Linked DNA regions of Homo sapiens. The protein of the gene in region 4 interacts with the protein of the main gene of each other region in a pairwise test. Each region holds a gene or a part of one and is shown on either strand. Other genes may lie near its edges.

Evidence for each region. Proteins that work in one complex are often made in the same cells at the same time.
Region 1: the proteins of REL (region 4) and ZNF76 interact in binary tests that used the Homo sapiens proteins (3 or more experiments, as listed by UniProt).
Region 2: the proteins of REL (region 4) and KRTAP9-4 interact in binary tests that used the Homo sapiens proteins (3 or more experiments, as listed by UniProt).
Region 3: the proteins of REL (region 4) and SPATC1L interact in binary tests that used the Homo sapiens proteins (3 or more experiments, as listed by UniProt).

The regions. Positions count from the first base shown.
Region 1 is NC_000006.12:35,276,735-35,280,234, reverse strand, and holds part of ZNF76 (zinc finger protein 76), read right to left. Parts: intron 1-3,500. UniProt on the Homo sapiens protein: May be involved in transcriptional regulation.
Region 2 is NC_000017.11:41,248,388-41,251,153, reverse strand, and holds KRTAP9-4 (keratin-associated protein 9-4), read right to left. Parts: upstream 1,468-2,766; 5' UTR 1,434-1,467; coding exon 969-1,433; 3' UTR 501-968; downstream 1-500. UniProt on the Homo sapiens protein: In the hair cortex, hair keratin intermediate filaments are embedded in an interfilamentous matrix, consisting of hair keratin-associated proteins (KRTAP), which are essential for the formation of a rigid and resistant hair shaft through their extensive disulfide bond cross-linking with abundant cysteine residues of hair keratins.
Region 3 is NC_000021.9:46,170,960-46,174,459, forward strand, and holds part of SPATC1L (speriolin-like protein), read right to left. Parts: intron 1-3,500.
Region 4 is NC_000002.12:60,884,574-60,888,073, reverse strand, and holds part of REL (proto-oncogene c-Rel), read right to left. Parts: intron 1-3,500. UniProt on the Homo sapiens protein: Proto-oncogene that may play a role in differentiation and lymphopoiesis.

The DNA.
Region 1 (3,500 bases), on a different chromosome or scaffold from region 4:
TCATGTTTATGCTGTCAGGGTGAATTTAAAAAAAAAGCTCTCTTCCCACTATCTTGGAGCCTGTAGAGGCCTGCTGAGAACAGGACTTCCAAAAGGCAAATATGGGCGGGGTGTAGTGGCTCATGCCTGTAATCCCAGTGCTTTGGGAGGCTGAGGCAGGAGGATTATTTGAGGCTAGGAGTTCAAGACCAATGTGGGCAACACAGCAAGACATTGTCTCTACAAAAAAAAAAAAATTAGCCAGGTGTAGTGGCACATGCCTGCAATCCTAGCTACACAAGAGGCTGAGGTGGGAGCACTGCCTGACCCCAGGAATTTGAAACTGCAGTAAGCTTTGATCATACCACTGAATTCCAGCCTGGGTGATAAAGAGACTCTGTCTCAAAAATAATAATAAGATAAATACAATACATTTGGAAGGCTGTAGTCCAAGGCCATTTTTTGCTAGCTGTAAGTGGGGCCTCCAGAACCAAAGCGAGGACACAGCTCTTATTAAAATTGAGGTATTGGCCAAGTGCGGTGGCTCACGACTGTAATCCCAGCACTTTGGGAGGCCGAGGACAGTGGATCACGAGGTCAGGAGATTGAGACCATCCTGGCTAACATGGTGAAAACCCATCTCTACTAAAAATACAAAAAATTAGCCGGGCGTGGTGGTGGGCACCTGTAGTCCCAGCTACTTGGGAGGCTGAGGCAGGAGAATGGCATGAACCTGGGAGGTGGAGCTTGCAATGAGCCAAGATCGCGCCACTGCACTCCAGCCTGGGCGACAGAGCGAGACTCCGTCCCAAAAAAAAAAAAAAAAAAAAAAAAAAATTGAAGGTATTTATGCTCGAAATGAAACTAATTCTATTTAGGCAAGAGATGTACTTACATGTATAAAGCAAAGAACAACACACTGACTGCTGGCAGCAAACTGAAGAAAACCAGCATAATCTGGGGAAAGGTAAACTCAGGCCCATGGAAACAGTGGCATGGTTTGTGCTAAATTCCCAAGCAATCTTGCTAAAGCTATTGAACACAGAATCTGTGTGACGCTGTGCCCCTCAAGGACTTAAGCTAATGAAAAGTAAATAAATAAAAGTAGATTTATAAGAAAAAAAGAGTACAAATCTAAACATACCACTTCCTTGACTAAAACCCTTCCATAGTTTCCTACAGCTCTTAGAGTCCACCTTGCATACAAGGCTGGGTTGTTATAAACTCCCACAGCCTAGGTACCACCTTTTCCTAGCACTCACACCTCTGGGCTCAACCTACTTCAGTACTCATCACTATCTGTTTAATGTCCGTTGCCTACACAAGGCTTTGGGCTCTAGCCTGGTTTCTGCGTCACAGTGGTTTCTCCAGCAACTCACACTGTGGGCTCTCCACACATCCTGTGAGTGACTCCCTGGGTCCCTCATGTGCAAGGTGGGAAGCACTGAAGCTTCCTGCTGGCAGGATATCTTCTGTACCCACTGTGGTGTGCAGCCTGCTCTAGCAGTGGACCCCAACACTTGTGAAGCCTGCAGGAAGCCCACGGCCTCTAAACTCAGTGCAGTCGTGAAGACTCTCTTTGACATCCATTCTCAAAATTCTCCTGGACTTGGAATCTGGACTGCCTACTGGATTCTCACGACTTACCAACCGATATCTTTGACTGGTGCTACCCAAACTGTTTTCATGTCAGGGGACCTAGAGAGACAGATATTTGTACATTGCATTGCAGATGCTGCTGCTTAAAGTCAGAAGTTCACATTGCAGATGTCACTGCTTCAAGCCAGAAGCGACCAACTGGGGCTTTGACAGCCCTGAGGGGCGAGCGGATCAATATCTTGGCAAAATTATAGACCATCCAGGAGTTCGAGACCAGCCTGACTAACATGGAGAAGCCCCGTCTCTACTAAAAATACAAAATTAGCTGGGCATGGTGGCACATGCCTGTAATCCCAGCTACTTGGGAGGCTGAGGCAGGAGAATTGCTTGAACCTGGGAGGCAGAGGTTGCGGTGAGCCGAGATCGTGTCATTGCACTCCAGCCTGGGCAACAACAGCGAAACTCCGTCTCAAAAAAAAAGAAAAAAACAAAACAAAAACTGGCTGGGCGTGGTGGCTCACACCTGTAATCCCAGCACTTTGAGAAGTTGAGGCGGGCAGATCACAAGGTCAGGAGATCCAGACCATCCTGACTAACAGGGTGAAACCCTGTCTCTACTAAAAATACAAAAAATTAGCCGGGCGTGGAGGGCGCCTGTAGTTCCAGCTACTCGGGAGGCTAAGGCAGAAGAATGGCATAAACCTGGGAGGCGGAGCTTGCAGTGAGCCAAGACTGCACCACTGCACTCCAGCCTGGGCGACAGAGTGAGACTCCGTCTCAAAAACAAACAAACGAAAAACCCAAAAAAACCTATAGACCAACTGCGACACGCTGATTGGAATGCTCTACCCCAGGCATGGCATCTCAACTAGAATTATTCATTCATTCTGTCCATAAACATTTACTAAATGGGCTAAGGTGCAAGGGCAGCAATACTATTATATAGTGAACACTACTATAGAGTTAACCACGTGCTAGGAATGTCACATACATTAACTCATTTAGTTCTAACAATCCTACAATCAAATGCTATGATTATCCTCATTTAAAAGTGAGGGAACTGGAGGCCCAAGACCAAGTTAAGTAACTTGCTCAAGGTTACACAGCTAACTAGTAAAGGAGGATTTCACCCTAGGCCATTTAATCCAGAGTGTGACCTTAATTACTATGCTGCGAAGCACAGAGGTGAAGCTGGGGGTTTATGAAACTTGAAGCTACTCCAAAATACTTTTTTGGTGTGTGAGCCTTTGCATTTTCCAGGAGAGAGGGAAATCCAAGGCTGTCATCAGGGTCTGATAGGGATTAATGGTGAAGAACCACTGGTCAAGGTGGGGATTCTGACATCTGACATCTCTGGTCTATTAGCATCCTTGCCCAGAGCCCTGATAACCTCCACGTGGTCCCTGTCTCACAAGAGCTCTGCTCCTGGCCTCTCTTGGTCTGCTCTGACCTTCAAGCTTCACTCTCTTCATCAGGTAGATTCTTTGGGTAACCCGCTTTAGTGTAACTGCACTGTGTCAGAAGACACATAAGAGAAACCAGGTCTAAAAACAAAGCAGGCTGGGCACGGTGGCTCATGCCTGTAATCCCAGCACTTTGGGAGGCCGAAGTGGGCGGATCACTTGAGATCAGGAGTTCGAGACCAGCCTGACCAACATGGTGAAACCCCGCCTCTGCTAAAAAAAAAAAAAAATACAAAAATTAGCCAGGTGTGGTAGCACATGCCTAGCTACTTGGGAGGCTGAGGCAGGAGAATTGCTTGGACCCAGGAGGCGGAGGTTGCAGTGAGCCAAAATTGCATCACTGCACTCTAGCCTGGGCAACAACAGCAAAACTCTTGTCTCAAAAAAAAAAAAAAAAAAAAACCCATAAATAAATAAATAAAAATAAAAACAAAGCAGACATAGGTTGAAAAGGGATTG
Region 2 (2,766 bases), on a different chromosome or scaffold from region 4:
CCCAAGCTTTTTTTGATGTAGATGAATTGAATGAGTGGCTGGTCAGAGGCTGAGACAAAAAGAGCTCCCTGCATTCAGGGCAGCCATTAAATGCAGTCCCTGCTGCCATATCACGCAGCTGTTTCTCACTGAGGTGTGGGAAATTGGGAATTTTTTGTAAACAAAAACGTTATCTGCAAATATAAGAGATTATTTGTCCTATTGTTAAAAAAACTCAAGTATATGACTTGCTAATACTTACTTCCAATGTCATTTCTACTATATTGAGAGTTAAATGTAAGTGTCCTTGGGCAGAAAGAGAGGACCTCAGCTTGGACAAGAGTCTGCCCTTTACTAGCTACATAACATCACACATTAAATTGTTCTCAGCTGAAAAAATGGAGGTAATAACACACGACCATCTGTTTTGAGAATCAAATTGGATAATACCTATGGTATGTGATATGTGTGTAAATCTCATATCAGGAATGCTTTCATATAAAACAAAACACCATATGAGATGAGGATGGTTCAGAGTTTATTCAGAAACATATAGCTAAGAATCTCTGCTGGTAGCAGAAACATAACCCAAAGTTATGAAAAGAAGAAAGAAGGATACAAGAACCATGAGGAGGATATTGAAAACAAAAATATGATTGCAAAGATTATTGATCAGTTGCAGAAACCTAAATTCCTTAGAAGCAGAGAATGAAGCTCTTGACTTTTGAGTCAAAGCTGAGACCATGACTCAAAATTGAGAACACACGAAGCTGGCACATGATCCACAAAGTGTAAGGAAAAAGAGAATCAGGATGAAGTATTCTGCCCTCCCTCAAGTAGATTCCCAAGATTTTAAACAGGTAGAGAATTCATAAAAATTTGGGTGAGAGCATGGTGGCTGTCAGCAGCAAATTAAATTAGTCCCCCAAAAGATAAGTCAGTTGAGCAGAAAGTTGTTGTGTGAGGATGGTGGTTCTCTTGGGACTTGATCAGCAGCAAAAAGGCTGACAGCAGCTGGACACACAGGTGGGCTGGAAGCAAGTGGTCTCACAGCAGGCTGGGCGGCAGCAGGGCTGGCAGCAGTTGGAGCCACAGCTCTGGTTTAGGCAACCAGGCAGGCAGACAGTTGTGGGGTAGTAGCAGGTTCTTCTGCAGTACACAGGTGCACAGGAGCTGCTCTGGTCACAGCTGGACCCACAGCAGGTGGGCTGGCAGCAGGGTGTGCTGCAGCAGGAAGGCTGGCAGCAGCTGGTCACACAGGTGGGCTGGCAGCAGGTGTTTTGACAGCAAGTTGGGCGGCAGCAAGGCTGGCAGCAGCTGGAAACACAGCAGGAGGGCTGGCAGCAGGGTGTGCTGCTGCAGGTGGTCACAGTGGTGGGCTTCCAGCAGGTGGTCCTGCAGCAGGTGGTCCTGCAGCATGTAGGCTGACAGCAAGGGGAGCAACAGTGGGTCATGGTGTCAGGGGTAGAGGGTGGGCTTCTGTTCAGAGGTGAGTTTCCCAGAATCTGATGACCCCTTGCAATCTGGACCTTTTATACACCTGGCCTCCAAAGTTTCCACCAATCAGCAGGACTTTTCCTTGTTTCCGTTTACATTGTTTTCCCAGTCCGTTTGTGATTCTCAAAGGGTAGTTGTTTCCTTAAGGTTAAACAGATTAAGGTTTAATCTGTTTCTTAATTGTGAATTACTCATAGACACTTTGTTTCAGATAAAAGGAAGGCAATCTCATCATCAGCATCATTCCTGTTCTGACCATCATCTGGTCATGTGATAGTTCCTGTTGATCTGGGAGGCTCAGGAAGTTCTCTCTGGCCAGCCTCATGTTTGGCTGTATGTAGACTGGGAAGTGTCTGTGGGGAGAAGCATGATGCTGATATATTTACAGTGACAAAATGAATCCATGCCTGGGCCCAAGACTAGTCACCCACCAAATTCTGACTCAAGACTAGCAGGCATCTCTCTGTGCAACCCACACCACCTGTCTTTCAGTTCTTTGAACATCACTTGGGAAGAGGGTGTTTGTCACAGTGTGTTCCATGTGGCAGAGCAGATCGAGAGCAGGTGGATGCAGATAAATCCACTGGGATTTAGACAGCATCAAGTAATCTATGCCCTGAGTGACCATTCATTCTGACTTGTCTGTGAGCGTGGCGATTCCAGAATGAGAATGTAGGACTCTCTATGGCATAAATGCTTGAGATTCAGGCCAACCAGCATGTGCTGTGGCTCTAGTCGCAACCCGGTTACTAGCACAGTAAGCAGCATGTCTTCTCTCTCTCTCTCTATTTCTTTTTAATGAAGGAATTAGATGAGTTGAGATGATGCCTGATTCATCATGGAGTTCTAACATGTTTAAAACATTTTCTAGGTATACCATTCATTTGAGAAGAATGCAAATTATTAATTTTCAACTTGATATAGTATTATATTGTAAATACATCTGTGTCCCCATTACATCTATGTTAGGAAATAGAAATTAATTCCATTCTCTCCCAATTATATGCTCTTACTCATTCCCAAAGACAGCTAATCACTCTATCAGTTGTAATCCTGTAGGTAATTTTTGGTTTTTTAAAGTTTTCATGTGAATAAAAAGTATAGTATTTGCTTCTCTATTTCTTTGGCATAAACAAAAGTAATCTTTATCGCCTAGTCATTTTGGACTCTTCATATAAGCAAAGCAGCAGACAGAGAAAGTAGTTACTATTTGGTGAGGGATAATTACCCTCAAGCCATATAGTGTAGCAGAATATATCTATAGCTCAGGAGATTTACTGAGTATATTAA
Region 3 (3,500 bases), on a different chromosome or scaffold from region 4:
CTCTGTAAACATCCTCTGTGGATGGGGAGGAGCCTCCTGCTCTGTGAACATCCTTTGTGGATGGGGAGGAGCCTCCTGCTCTGTGAACATCCTCTGTGGTCTGACGCTGGGCTCAGGTGTGTTCACTTTCTTTGCTTTCCACACCAAGGGGGAGGGTCCATGCCCACCAACACCTCCTGGCCCCACACCCTCATGAGGACTGAATATTCCCCAACCAGGCTGATGAGGTCATGTGGCATTTCCCCAATCCCTGGCCAAATTTAGCTTATCTATGCCTTTATGGCTTATGAAATTCTATTCTACCTCCATGTCATGTGTATTCTCCTAGCAATAAAGCAAATACATATTAGAGAAAGTGTTCGGAGCCATATCAAAAAATTATACCTTAAAATGTGCCTACTGGAGCTTGCAGTGAGCCAAGATCGTGCCACTGCAATCCAGCCTGGGCGACAGAGCAAGAATCCATCTCAAAAAAAAAAAAAAAAATGTGCCTACAAAGGAACCAACTAATCTTCCCTCTGAAATGTTTTCCAAGGAAAAAAAGTTCGAAAGAAGCAAAGTCATCAGCGTGTGCCCGGCCTCCTGCCACGTGGGAGGCCTGGAGTCCTCAGGCTTCACAGACCCCCCACCCCAGACACTTTTCAAATTATAAAAGAATATTATGTACAATTATGTATTAATTAAAATTTCAATAAAAGGAGATAGCCTGGAAAATTACTTTCAAGTGACTCAATAAGAAGTAGAAAACCTAAATGAACCAATACACAAAGAAGGAAAATCTAAAAGTTATGAAATGATTATTCCCCAGAGGGCTGCAGGCCTGGATGGTCTGTGGGTGAGTGTGCCAAGTTCCCAAACAAGTCATAATCCCGACATCATACAAATGAGGCTGGAACCGTAGAACAGGTTAAAAGATGCTCAATTAGGTTTCAAAATTTGTCACAACTCTGATGTCAAATTCCTACAAAGATAACCCCCAGAAAAAAAAAAAAAAAAAAAAAAACCATGGCCAGGCCAAAAATAATTGCACAAAGTCTCATCCAAACATGATCAAGAACACACAGCACGAGGCAGGAGTGTGCACAGAGCATGAGGCAGGAGTGCAGAGCATGAGGCGGGGGATGCACAGAGCATGAGGCAGGAGTGCAGAGCATGAGGCGGGGGATGCACAGAGTGTGAGGTGGGGGATGCAAAGAGCGTGAGGCGGGGGATGCACAGAGCGTGAGGCGGAGGATGCACAGAGCGTGAGGCGGGGGTTGTGCAGAGCACAAAGCGGGGAGGTGTGCAGAGCACAAGATGGGGGTGGAGAGCATGAGGCAGGGGTGTGTGCAGAGCACGAGGCGGTGGGGTGGAGAGCAAGAGGCAGGGTGTGCAGAACCCAGTGGCTGTGCAGCGTAGCAAGATACCAGATACGGTCCCTGGCAAGAAGCTGAGATACCTCCACTGGTACAGAGATAGGCTCACAAACACCGAACAAGATGAGCCATTTCTCAAATTTTCTGTTTTCCAAAAATAAGAACAGGAAGGACTCTTCCACAGCATCCAGCCTGTGCAAACCTCCCTCCTCTGGGCAGATGGGACCGTTGGTCCTTCCCACAGCTGGTCAGGAGGACCAGGATGCGGCCAAAACCCTCTCTCACCTTCCCTGGAGGAGGCCCCATGAAAGTCAAGGCCAAGGCCCGAGTTCTGAGTAATAAGGACAAAGACAGAAATAAGAAGTTCATGTGGATTGGAAGGGCGGGATGGCCGGCCAGATGCAGCCAGATGATACAGCTCCCACGGAGGGCCTGAGATGACTGGTGAGCTTCTAACACATCTTCAGAGGGAAGGTGCTGAGGGCAGATGGAGGGAGCACACAGAAGCTGGGCTGAAGGGGAGAAAGCTGGGAACCTGCCTGGGACTACTGAGCACTGGTGCTCATTTTTGGACCCACAACAGCTCTGGGGAAATGGGGGAGTTAAACGGGCAAGGAGCAACCCACTGTTGCCATGGGCCTCTGGAACCCCAGCTGGGGGAGACCCCTTGCCCACCATGGACACTCTAGTTGGCAGGGAGAGCTGCTTAGAGAAGTGATGGGGGCAGCAGCCAGCTGAAGCAGAACCCAGAGGGTCTGGTGCAGGAACACAGCCAGGGACGGCCGTCCCCCAGGCTTGATTTGCTCCCACAGGAGACTTTGGACCTAGGGGAACTGTCAGACCTGTTCTCTGCAGGGTGGTCTTACCCATCAGATGGGACCAGTCCAACCTGAGCACCCCTTCGTCTGCTGGCCTCTCCTGGGGCCCCAGCCTGGCCATGCCTGCTTGCAGGGCAGTCTTGGGTGCCCTGGGGGTCTTCACCATAGCTTCTGTGCCAGCAGACTGTGCCTGGCCAGTGGAGAGCTCCAGTGAGACAGCCCCGACGGCCACACACCAGCCTGCCTGCTCCCTCCTCATATTGTAGCTTCCCCTGGGCCCAGGCAACTCCCCACATCACTCTGCTGATGTCTGCACAGGTGGGTTTTGATTTCCTTCCCCCACCAGCATGCAGGAGTCCAGTGGGCCTCCCCTTTCCCTACAGACTTCCATTGCAGGTGAAGCCTTGGCAGACACAGAGCCAGCAAGCCCCATACCCGCCAGAACCCTGCCTTTGACCTAACACTGAGCAGAGAACAGTGGATCCTCCCCCACCCTGAGCGATCACTCCTGCTTGCAGGGCACAGAAAAGGCACCTAGACCTGTGCCAACCAGCACCCCACCCATGCCTATAGTACCTCCAGAGTAACTGCACACAGTCTCCAACAGGAGCCCCCCATCCCCACCCCAGCTGCTTTGCCTCCACCACTGTGGTGAACCCCCACAGGAAGGCAGGCACTCTGCATCTGCCAGCCACTCTGCTGTAGCTGCAGTACCTCAGCCCCCCAGTGCAGTGGATTCCAAACCTCAAGGAGCCAGAGAACAAAGTCAGGGCCCAAAACAAGTCCCCCAGAGCTAGAGCATGCAGAGTCCAGGAGTTGGCAGCTGGGCACTGGCCCCTTAAATATTCCATAAATGAAGCCAGTTGGCTGAATCCACCTTATACCACAATCAAAACCTCAAGGTCATCAAACAGACCAGGCATGGTGGCTCATGTCTGTAATCCCAGCACTTTGAGAGGCTGAAGCAGGTGAATCACTTGAGGCCAGGAGTTCAAGACCAGCCTGGCCAACATGATGAAAACCCATCTCTACTAAAAAATAGAAAAATTAGCCAGGCATGGTGTTGGGTGCCTATAATTCCAGCTACTTGGGAGGCTGAGGCAGGAGAATCACTTGAACCTAGGAGGCAGAGGTTGCAGTGAGCCGAGATTGTGCTACTGCACTCCAGCCTGCCTGGGAGACAGAGCAAGACTCTGTCTCAAAAAACAAAACAAAAAAAAAAAAAAAACAGAATGGCAAGCTAGATAAAGAACCAAGACCCATTGGTATGCTGTCTTCAAGAGACCCATCTCACATGCAATAACACAAATAGGCTCAAAATAAAGGC
Region 4 (3,500 bases):
CACCTGTAATCCCAGCTACTTGGGAGACTGAGGCAAGAGAATTGCTTGAACCCAGGAGGTGGAGGCTGCAGTGAGCCAAGATTGTACCACTGCACTCTAGCCTGGGTGACAGAGTGAGACTCCGTCTCAAAAAAAAAAACAAACAAAACACAAAAACAACAACAAAAAAACCCAAAACTTCATTGGTTACATGACACTTCTTTAGATTGTTTACAAAAAGAACAGAAAAGTAGTTGTTGAAAAGATTAAATATTTTTAAATAGTAAAAATTACATAAATATCAGTTATCATATAATATTGAGTATTTAAAGTCCTTGGAATTTATTTTTCCTACTGCAGAAGCTCTTAATTGGTAAAAATTAACAAGCTGGGGGAATGTAGAGTATTACAACCAAGTAACACAGTATACTGTAATACTCTACATTCCCCCAGCTGGAAATAATCTCCCCTCCTTTAAACTACCATAGTATTCTGTGTATAGCAATTATTCCAAATAACTGTAATTTAGGGAAAACTTACCGTCTTATTTCTTCTTGAGATAAAGCTACTTGTTTTATTTCTTCAAGCTACTTGAAGGCAGAAATTGTGTTTAACTCATCAGTGCCTTGTACAGAGATATTCATTAAACATCTATTGAATGAATGACTAAAAAATCTTAAGGTCTTTTGTTTATACAAGTTATTCAAACGTTAAATAATCATATAAGTGATTAGTCAGATTTTTTAATTAGATTCCACTACTAAGGAAAAAAAAATAGTGCTTTATAGGTACCAGGATTGCTACACCTCAGTATTTCCTCATACTCATTCCTATTTTGATTTATCTGTGTTTATGATTTTTAAAAAACTTCCCAGCTATAAATCATTTATATAATGCATCAGTACAATGCACCAGTTATCTCCTTCCTCAGTACTGTGCTTTGCACAATGCCATTCTTCCTGAATATAAAATGTGTTGAAATGTAGTCATCTATGGAGTGCAAGAGGGTAAAACATAAATCAGGAAATTGTAGGGAAAATAAGTACTCTTAACTAAGATAACCTCAAATCGCCACAGTTTTGAAAAGCACCAAAACGTCTCCAAAATTGACTCTAAACAAATTGATTACTGTATTTTTCTTTAAGCAACACTATGCAAAGCTGGGACTGACCCCTATATTCTGAATAGTATTTTAAAAGGCTAATATACATCAGAATAACTTCTAAAATACAGCCAAAATGTTTGTAAGATATATCTATGTTTTTATTTGCGCTTAGGCAAGAAAGAGTGCTATTTTAAAACATAGTGCCTATCTAATAAAGCATGAGCTTTTAAAATAAAAAAATTACATTGAAATGTTTAAATGGATCATAAATTATCGGAAATAGACACATTATTAACAAACACTTTATTGCTAGAATTAGCAACCAGCATCAAGTATACAGAAAAAAAAGCTAATTATTGTAATTATAACATTATTTTAAGACCCCTTTATATACATTTCTCATTTGATCCTCTTAACTTTAATCTCCATTTGAAAAATAATAGAAATTATTATCCCATCTTACACATGATAAAACTAAAGTTGAAAATTATATGAAGTTATAATAAAAATGAATTATGAATGGTATGCTAATATGGCAGTGCCAAATTTAAAAAACAAGCATAAAAGCAACTGGAGGTAATAACTGATACAGCACATAATCTGCAATCTAAAATAAATGCAACTTAATTTAAGAAGATAATGCATCCTGGTATAGCCAAATGAGTATTTAGATCCAAAGAAATCCCTAGAACAGAGTTCATACTGGGGATGTACATCAGAATCACCTAGGTAGTTTTTTCAAAACATACATGTCCTTACCCCACTTGAGATGTTTAGAAGATAAAGAAATCTTCATAGTTTTTAAAGCCCAGATACACGTTGCTGAAAAAGCCTTCCAAGAAATTCTAACACACTCCTGATTAAGAATAATTGTCTTAAAACATGAAGTGGAAGCAACAATGCACATATTGAGAGAAGTAATCTAAAAATTCAGGTACAAATATGGACTGGGACGTGAGTAAATTAGGCAAAGCAATTCTGGCTACTTGTAACTTGAACTTGTGTTTATCTCCCACTTAAAAAAGAACCTTATTCAAATGCAAGCAAGAAAAAATGACAATATAGAGATAACCTTCAAATGCTTTCATTTATTTAAAAAGTAAATAATTTACAACACAAATATTTTAACTCTTGCAACACATCACACAAATGATTGTCACACCAGTGTGTCAACACCACAGTTGAGAATAGCTGACTAGACTGCATGTCTCTCATAAAGGTCCTCGGTGACAGACTTTGCCTGAGACCTAAAGGAGCCAATGGAGCTAACAATATATATTTTTCCAAATATCACCTCTACTCAATTTGGAGAAAAAGAAAATAAGATCTATTATTTTTTTCCTCAAACTAGGTCTCTCATCAGCCAAAGGCTATGCCAATATATCAGGCTGACTTTATTACTCCAATACATCAGGCTGACTTTCAACTGGGCCTTAAGAATCAAAGAAAGGAAATTTTCAGATGAGTATTCAACTGATTTATGCACTACAAGGTAAAAACTGTAAAAGATTCTGGCAATAGGGATTCTGTTACCAAGGGGGAAAAAAGGTAAGTCTTGAAAAAACTCTTGCACGTGCCAGGGTAAAATAAATAAATTTTAAAAGCTGTCCTAGATTATACAGGTATTAAAGTTAAAAACAAATGGCAAGACCAAATCACCTCTGTTTTAAAAATAAAAACAGAGGAGGCCCAGATAAATATGAATTTCAGAAAAACAATTTTATCCCATGCAATATTTGGGTCATGTGCCTACAAACAAAATCATTTTCAGAGAACCCATATGAGAGAAAGTTGGAACAAAATGAAATTCTGAGTCCCTTAAATTGTATTTGAGAAAGATACTATGCATAACCTAGATGTTCCTAATTATGATTCATTGTCTGGCTCCTCCCTAGTCATTACATTAACTCATTCCCTTTATCTGTGCCTATCATACGTCACCTTAATTATTTAACTCCATTGTTATTTCTATTTTTTCATGTGTTGCATTTCTGAAACATTCATGCTCATGTGTGGCATTTTACTTAAAAAAAGAAGTCATTTACTGTAGCTATCCATTCCTAACTTCCAGCTCTGTTATTAAAGATTAAGTTGCCTCACACTTACTTCCATTTCTCCCCTTTAATCGAGAAAAACAACAATTCTCTTGAAATTCACACTACAAATAGTTGGTAAGAAGTGAGGTTTACAAAAACAATTCATTTCTGTACTTCCTTCCTATTGTGTGACACAGAAGAACCATACTAAGAAAAATGTGAAGAAAAATAAATTATCTAAATTTTAAAACATTTTACCAAAGACAGCACTAATTATTAGTTAACAGAGCTATATGCCACACAAAGACATTTTGCTCTTTTTACTGGAACAATGAGAAGGTTTAAATTCAGACATAAAATATCTAATTTTACTTATATTA